2 separate regions of the Homo sapiens genome follow, and region 1 is linked to region 2. A link means that fine-mapping ties the variant in region 2 to the expression of a gene that starts in the linked region. Tissue or cell type: visceral fat. Region 2 holds a variant in brackets; the other region holds the start of a gene. All regions are shown on one strand. Distances are from middle to middle.

What was found. PIP is the estimated chance that this variant, and not a neighbour inherited with it, causes the effect. A credible set is the group of variants that fine-mapping cannot tell apart.
Region 1: SLC22A12 starts here. The variant in region 2 is the best candidate, but not a certain one, in a credible set for the expression of SLC22A12 in visceral fat (GTEx, PIP 0.79).

Annotation. Positions count from the first base shown.
Region 1 is chr11:64,588,936-64,593,139 of GRCh38, forward strand. SLC22A12 (solute carrier family 22 member 12) reads left to right here and starts at 2,285. Exons shown (of 10, transcript NM_144585.4): 1 at 2,285-3,023; 2 at 3,844-3,947. The coding sequence starts at 2,622.
Region 2 is chr11:64,699,577-64,703,780 of GRCh38, forward strand. All of the region lies in intron 2 of NRXN2 (neurexin 2), which reads right to left. Among named protein-coding and RNA genes, the nearest start is that of NRXN2, 22 kb to the right of the region's middle. The variant G/C (reference allele first, on the strand shown) is at 2,380.

The sequences.
Region 1 (4,204 bases), 110 kb before region 2:
TGGATTTTACAAAAGGAAATGTAAAGCTTATTTGGCAGCTCAAGCTGATGAAGCTAAACATATCAGTTACTAAAACAAAGTCTGCACATATTTACACCAAACTGTAAACAGTAGTGTAACTCACTGGTTGATGAGTATATGAGGGATCTTTATTTTCATTTCAATATGTTCTGAATTTTTGAGGAAGTGTGTAAATTATTTCATAATTAGAAAATAAATGAAATTTTTAAAAAAATCATCCATGCACTTCAGCAAGTCTCCATGGAACCTTTATTTGTTGTCCAAATCAGTTCCAAAGAGCCTCTAAAGAAGGGTTCCAGACTACCAGGAGCTCACTGGAAATAAGACCAACTGGACCATAATAGAAGAATGCAGGTCATGGCTGGGTGCCGCAACTCACACCACTTTGGGAGGCCAAGGCAGGCAGATCACCTGAGGTCAGGAGTTTGAGAAGAATGCAGGACAGTGTAAAGATGAGATTCCACTGACAACTCTGAGCCCTAGTTGTAGGCAGGAATAAGTGAAGAGAGCCCGCTGGAGGAGGAGTATTTGGACTGTGCCCATTCCACACAGTATGTGGCCTAAGGGTGAGCCTGGAGACAGCATTCCAGGCTGGAGGTCCAACATAAGCAAGGGTGGGAACTGAGAAAGCATGTACAGGGCATGTGGTGGAAGCAGTGGATGACTCAAGGTGCAGAGCCCAGGGAGGCAAAGAAGTTGGCTTGGTAAGCCATGTGGAGGGGCAGCGGGAAGAGTCGGTGAAGCAAAAAGAAGCAGATGGGAGGGGCATTTATGCCTCAAATGGAGAGTTTTATGCCCAAAGCTCATAAGAGCAAACACCTGGGTTGCCATCACTGCTGCACTGCACATATACGCATGCACACATGTACACACATGCACTTGTGCAAACACATGTGCACACATACACAGACATGTGCACACACCCACATATACATACACTTCTTTTTTTTCTTTTCTTTTTTTTTTTTTTTTTGAGATAAGAGTCTTTCTCTGTCAACCAGGCTGGAGGGCAGTGGTGCAATCTCAGCTTGCTGCAACCTCTGCCTCCTGGGTTCAAGAGATTCTCCTGCCTCAGCCTCCCAAGTAGCTGGAATTACAGCTGTGCACCACGACCATGCTCAGCTAACTTTTGTATTTTTAGTAGAGATGGGTTTTTGCCATGTTGGCCAAGCTGGTCTTGAACTCTTGACCTCAAGTGATCCCCCCACCTCGGCCTCCCAAAGTGCTGGGATTACAGGCATGAGCCACCACGCCCGGCCATGCACACACACTTTTTAACTGCTTTGTGTTCTCTGGCCCTTTCGCCTACAGAATTAGCTATCGAGACCAAGGGGGTTCTCTTGGCCTCGGTCCAGCCTTTCCTGAACCCCACACCCTGCATCAGCACACACTGCTGTCCACTCACCTGCCCTAGTAAGTCACCACTAGCTGTTGTTGACTGGGAGCCCCTTGGCTTTTAAGCAGGATTTGACCCAAGGGCTCGCAGTGCGTGGTGGGTCCAGGGGCAGGAGTTGAGGCAGAAAGACAAGGGCAGGGACAGCTGTGGAGTGGGGGAGGTGGGAGAGAGAAATCCTTAGGAGGCAAAACTAGCCAGGCTTGGCCCCTGGTGGATTTGGGAGGCAGGGAGCAGGAGGCGTGAACCAAGACGCTGGGTTCCAGGCCAGACACTGTGACATGAGAGGCCATAGCTGAGGTGGGGCTCTGCAGGAGGCATAGATTTGGGGAGGGGACAGAGATCTCAGGGTGGCATTGGGCACACCGAACCTGGGGAGTCTGTGGGGTGTCTGTTGATGCTGGGAAGCTCCACCGAGGACTCAGGACAGGGTAACAGCAAAGCGGGCACAGGACGCCAACCACAGCAGGTGAGTGGAGGCAGGAGCCACGGGTGGGGCCAGGCCACACAGCCTGGGAGGCGCAGGGGCTGGGCAGCTGCCAGTGACCCAAGCCCACACAGAGACTTGCACAGCTGCCCCAGCCCCAAATTAGGGGGATCCCCTGGCCCACCTTCTCTTGGCTCAGCCACTCTGGGAGGTGGGCACACAGGGGCACCGAAGGGAGCAGGCAGCCCTGGCATCCCACAGCCGCCAGGAGAAAAACTTAGGCCTCCCCAAGACCTGGCACAGAGCAGGCCGGCCCTGGCCCCCAAGCAGAGGAGGCTGCACCTCCCTCGCGTCTGTGCCTGCCTCAACGCGGGTTAAACTTTGACCAAGGAAATGATTGCTAAACTCGATTCCATAAGTGTCACCGGTCACACTTTAATTCCAGTCTAAAATTAAAGTCTTCAGTCTCCACATTCCCTACTTTCCAAATTCAGCTTTCCCGGGAGGTCTGGAGCAGCTGCCTCTCTGGGGAGATGCTGGAGGTCTCGGAATCACCTCACGCGGCCTCAGGGCCCAGTTGGAGCCACCCCAAGTGACACCAGCAGGCAGATGACCAGAGAGCCTGAGCCTCCGGCCCCGAGTCTGTGAAGCCTAGCCGCTGGGCTGGAGAAGCCACTGTGGGCACCACCGTGGGGGAAACAGGCCCGTTGCCCTGGCCTCTTTGCCCTGGGCCAGCCTTTGTGAAGTGGGCCCCTCTTCTGGGCCCCTTGAGTAGGTTCCATGGCATTTTCTGAACTCCTGGACCTCGTGGGTGGCCTGGGCAGGTTCCAGGTTCTCCAGACGATGGCTCTGATGGTCTCCATCATGTGGCTGTGTACCCAGAGCATGCTGGAGAACTTCTCGGCCGCCGTGCCCAGCCACCGCTGCTGGGCACCCCTCCTGGACAACAGCACGGCTCAGGCCAGCATCCTAGGGAGCTTGAGTCCTGAGGCCCTCCTGGCTATTTCCATCCCGCCGGGCCCCAACCAGAGGCCCCACCAGTGCCGCCGCTTCCGCCAGCCACAGTGGCAGCTCTTGGACCCCAATGCCACGGCCACCAGCTGGAGCGAGGCCGACACGGAGCCGTGTGTGGATGGCTGGGTCTATGACCGCAGCATCTTCACCTCCACAATCGTGGCCAAGGTAGGGCCTCCCCCAGAGCCACTCGAGTCCCACCACCTTGGAGGTCAGTCATGGATCACGGTGGGTCAGACTCAAAGGTCCAGTCCTGGGAGGGACCCACCTCCCCAGGCCCCACTCACTCTCGAGCCTCTCAGCCCCTCGTCAGCCACACACAGGGAAGTGGGCGGCAGGGATCAGTCTACAAATGGGGCCAGCCCAGGCTCTTGGAGGTGCGGGGGGCACCTGGGCGGGCACCTCTAAATGCTGGCACCTGGACACTCACCGGCCTCACCCTGTCCTGGCCCTGCTGACCTGTCAGCCGTGACTCCAGGCAACTCAGCAGCAGGGGGACTCAGTGACAATTCACTGGATTCCCCGAGACCAAAGCACACAGAGTAAGGGATTACCCCAGGCTGCCTCCCAGATGGGGCGCCAGGCAAAGCCAGGCAAGCAGAGAGGGGCAGCTCATCCCAACAAGTGGGAAGAACCTCTTTATAAAGAACAGGAGGGAAGCAACCTCTGGGAGAGGGGTGAGGGTGTCAGCTTGGGTGGCTGCTTCCAAGTGGAGAGACAGGAGAGAGGGGCAGATGTGGCTAGAGACCCATTGGGCAATAGGGAGCCATGGAAGAGTTCAGGCAGAGGGTGGCAGGATATACTCCTCAAAAGGCCAAACTATGCCTGTGGGTGCCCTCACTGTTCCACAGGGTCTTGCTCTAAAACCCTAGAGGTCACCAGACCACCCACCGCACCCAGCTCCCTGGGGGCCCTCCCATGCGGTTCCTCTGCCTCTCTGCTGGGGCTCTCCCAACCTCCTGAGCTCAGCCTCCTCCTCTCCCATCAGTGGAACCTCGTGTGTGACTCTCATGCTCTGAAGCCCATGGCCCAGTCCATCTACCTGGCTGGGATTCTGGTGGGAGCTGCTGCGTGCGGCCCTGCCTCAGACAGGTGAGTACCCCCAGTCCAGGCAGGTCCCAGTTCCCCTCACAACCCCTGCTCTCCTAGGACCCTGGCCGACTGGCCCCAAACCAGCCTCACAAAACCAAGTCTAGAAAGCGCCCTACTTGCTGGGTGTGGGTCTCGGACCAGCCACCCTGCAGCCGTGCCAGGTAGGGAGGTCTGGAACCTTCTCTGAACCTCGAGTTCACCAACTTTACTCTGGGGGTTGTAGAGGATTTCTGCTCCCCAGCAAACATTCACTGCTA
Region 2 (4,204 bases):
TACTTTTTGTATTTTCAGTAGAGATGGGGTTTCTCCATGTTAGTCAGGCTAGTCTCGAACTCCCAACCTCAGGTGATCTGCCCGCCTCGGCCTCCCAAAGTGCTGGGATTACAGGCATGAGCCACAGTGCCCAGCAATAGTTTTCTTAAGTAAACTGAATCACATTTCATTTATGGGGGGAGCTGGCTAATAAAGGGGCCCTCAGGAAACCCTTTGGCTCTCGTGAAGACTGCTGTGCCAGGATTTCTTTGGTCCCAGTATGCTAAGACCCTGGTCAGTCAGCACAATTGTCTCACCAGCACCTGTGCAAATAAGGAGGCATGGTGATTTCTAGATAATCCAACATGGTAGGTATTTCAAAAAGTATTTCCACCTGCCAGAAATGTACGTCATGCTATGCTCAGGAAGGTGAAACAACCAGGCTTGGTTTGTTTCTGGCTTTTGAGAGACAGCACCTAGAAACTCACATATCTCTCTTCCTCTGCTGCTCTTTGCTTTCTGCTGATTCACCTATGCCCCTCACCTGCCACCTCAGTCCCCTTCAGGGTTGGCCCCTGCCCTCCACATTCCTCTTACTTCTCCTCGCTCTCCTCAGTGATGGCTCATTTTCGTGCTCAGAGACTCCCAAACCATGGGTAGTCCCGGCCTCCTCCCTGAGTACCAGTCCTGTATCACCATGTGTCCACCCAGCAGTGCAATTGCTCGTCCAACTCTCTGACATCTAAACTCCACCACTGAAGCCATTCTCGACACCTCCACTCCTACAACCAAGTGCTTATTCCCCTGTGCTTAGCAAAGCCCCTGCTTTCAACCAGTGCTGCCTGAGCTCCCACTACATGCCCCACACTGCCCTCATAGGTTCCAGAGATTCCATTAGTTAGCCATGTGCTGGGCACCGTACTGACCCTCACATGCAATATCACACATCAGCCTCACTGCAACACAGAGCTCGGTGTTATCTATCGACTCTGTACAGAGAAGAAAACACACCCAGGAGCACAGAATCACTTTTGCCCTTCTCCACTGCAATCCTAGGTCATCGTAGCCTCTGGCCTCACTCCTTGTGCCTGGTTTCCTGCAATAGCTTCCTCTTGGTCAGTCTCCCTACCCATCCCCAGCCTGACCCTCTTGGCAGAGGTAACAGATACGCCTTACTAAATACCGCTGTGATGAGAACCTTTCAGTGTTTCTGATACAAACCTCTCTCCTGTGCTCTTGACCTATGTACCCATCTGTCTTTAGAGCCGCTGTCTCTGAGTGTCTCATGGGCTTCTCACATTCAATATGTCTAGGGTGGGCCTCATAACCCTCTCCTCACCCCACCAAATTCCCTGATCAAGTTAGGCACCCAGAAAGCACCTGCTCCTTTTGTCAGGCCAATCACCGGGTCCTACTGGTTCCACCTTCTAAAACCCTAAAAACAAAACTAAACTCCTAGAAATCCTTATCATCCCTCCATTTCCACCGGCACCGCCCAGGCCAGGCCCTGGTGAGGCCAGGCCCTGATCAGTCCCTCTCCTTGGAACATTAATAAGCCTAGGAGATGATGCCCTCTACCGCCACTCTTTTCACCCTGAAATTCATACACCGCAGCACAACAAAGTGGTCCACTCCAACCATGTTACGACCCTGCTGAAAACTCTTCAAAGCTTTTCAGTGCCTGTAGGTTAAAGTCGAATCTTCTCAGAAAATCCCATCCGAAATTTGACTGTTTCTTCCTCTAACCTCTTTTCCTGCGACAATCCAGGCTGCAGCCACCCCAACTTCTTCCTGTTTCTATAATATGCTATGTTTCTGCACATAATATTTCTTGTGCTTGAAATACTCTTCACCTACAGCTGGCTAAGAAAATCTACTCTTTCTTTAAGACCCAAGTCAAGGGCTAGCTACAATGGTTCGCGCCTATAATCCCAGCACTTTGGGAAGCCACGGTGGGAGGATCACTTGAGCCCAGGAGTTTGAGACCAGCCTGGGCAACATAGGGAGACCCGTCTCTACAAACAAACGCAAAAATTAGCCAGATGTAATGGCTCGTGTCAGTACTCCCAGCTACTTGGGAGACTGAGGTGGGAGAATCACTTGAGCCTGGGTGGTCAAGGCTGCAGTGAGCCATGATGACACCACTGCACTCCAGCCTGGACGACGGAGAAGACTTTGCCTAAAAAAAAGAAATAAATAAGCCCCGTCCGGGGGGGAAGTGGGGGGATCAGCCCCCCGTCCGGCCAGCCGCCCCGTCCGGCAGGTGAGGGGCGCCTCTGCCCGGCCGCCCCTACTGGGAAGTGAGGAGCCCCTCTGCCCGGCCAGCCGCTCTGTCCGGGAGGGAGGTGGGGGGGGTCAGCCCCCCGCCCGGCCAGCCGCCCCGTCCAGGAGGGAGGTGGG[G/C]GGGTCAGCCCCCCGCCCGGCCAGCTGCCCCGTCCGGGAGGGAGGTGGGGGGGGTCAGCCCCCCGCCTGGCCAGCCGCCCCGTCCGGGAGGTGAGGGGTGCCTCTGCCCTGCCGCCCCTACTGGGAAGTGAGGAGCCCCTCTGCCCGGCCAGCCGCCCGTCCGGGAGGTAGGTGGGGGGGTCAGCCCCCCACCCGGCCAGCCGCCCCGTCCGGGAGGGAGGTGGAGGGGTCAGCCCCCCGCCGGGCCAGCCGCCCCGTCCGGGAGGTGAGGGGCGCCTCTGCCCGGCCGCCCCTACTGGGAAGTGAGGAGCCCCTCTGCCCGGCCACCACCCGTCTGGGAGGTGTACCCAACAGCTCATTGAGAACGGGCCATGATGACAATGGCGGTTTTGTAGAATAGAAAGGGGGGAAAGGTGGGGAAAAGATTGAGAAATCGGATGGTTGCCGTGTCTGTGTAGAAAGAGGTAGACATGGGAGACTTTTCATTTTGTTCTGTACTAAGAAAAATTCTTCTGCCTTGGGATCCTGTTGATCGGTGACCTTACCCCCAACCCTGTGCTCTCTGAAACATGTGCTGTATCCACTCAGGGTTGAATGGATTAAGGGCGGTGCAAGATGTGCTTTGTTAAACAGATGCCTGAAGGCAGCATGCTCCTTGGGAGTCATCACCACTCCCTAATCTCAAGTACCCAGGGACACAAACACTGCGGAAGGCCGCAGGGTCCTCTGCCTAGGAAAACCAGAGACCTTTGTTCACTTGTTTATCTGCTGACCTTCCCTCCACTATTGTCCTGTGACCCTGCCAAATCCCCCTCTGCGAGAAACACCCAAGAATGATCAATAAAAAAAAAAAATTAGAAAAAAAAAAAAAGAAAAATAAATAAATTAGCCAGACATGGTGGTGTGCGCCTGTAGTCCCAGCTACTCAGGAGGTTGAAATAGAGGATCATTTGAGCCCAGGAGTTTGAGGTTACAGTGAGCTATGATCACACCACTGCACTTCAGCCCAGGTCTCTAAAAAAAAAAAAAAAAAAAAAAAGAAAGAAAGAATTAAAAAAAAAAGATCCAGGTCAATACACATTTGTCTCTGTTCTAAACAAAGGAGAGCTAGCCTTCCTCTTTTGTGCCAACTCTAGAAATGTACATTCTATTATTAATTATCTTATTGAATCTCTATTGCATCTGTGTTAACATGTCTGTTTCCTGACTTGACTGTGAAATATCCAAAAGTGAGGACAATGCCTCATTCATCTCTCTATATCCAGCTGCTTACATGGCTCCTGGCTCAGAAAAAAAGGCATTCTCCTGTTTGTTGAGTGAATAATAAAAATAACACTTTGCATATACTGAGCACTTAGGGTGTGCCTGGCTCTTTACGCCCATTGTTCCTTTACCCGCCACTGCTACATTGTGAATGGATATTACTATCACTCCCTTTTAGAGCTGAAGAAACCAAGACTCAGAAAGTAGGAGTAACTTGGCCAAGGTCACACTGCTAGTTAGTGACAGTCAAAATTTGAACCCAAATCTGTCTGGTGAAAACTTCCAGTGGGCTACGTGCTTAGCCTGGAAGTCAAGACTTCTAGAAACTGATTCTAATCTAAGGTTCTGATCTTATCTACCATAAAACACAACCAACTTTGTCTCTTCATCATGTCCTGACCCACTCAATTCACATCCCCTGTATTCCTCATGTAGGCTACTCTCCTGGTGGGAAAGCCCTGCCCTTTCCTTTCCACCTCTATAACTCACACTCAGTCATCCTTCTTCAAGGTCTGGCCAAGTCCCACCTCCTCCTTGAAGCCTTCCCTGACCACTAGAGCTA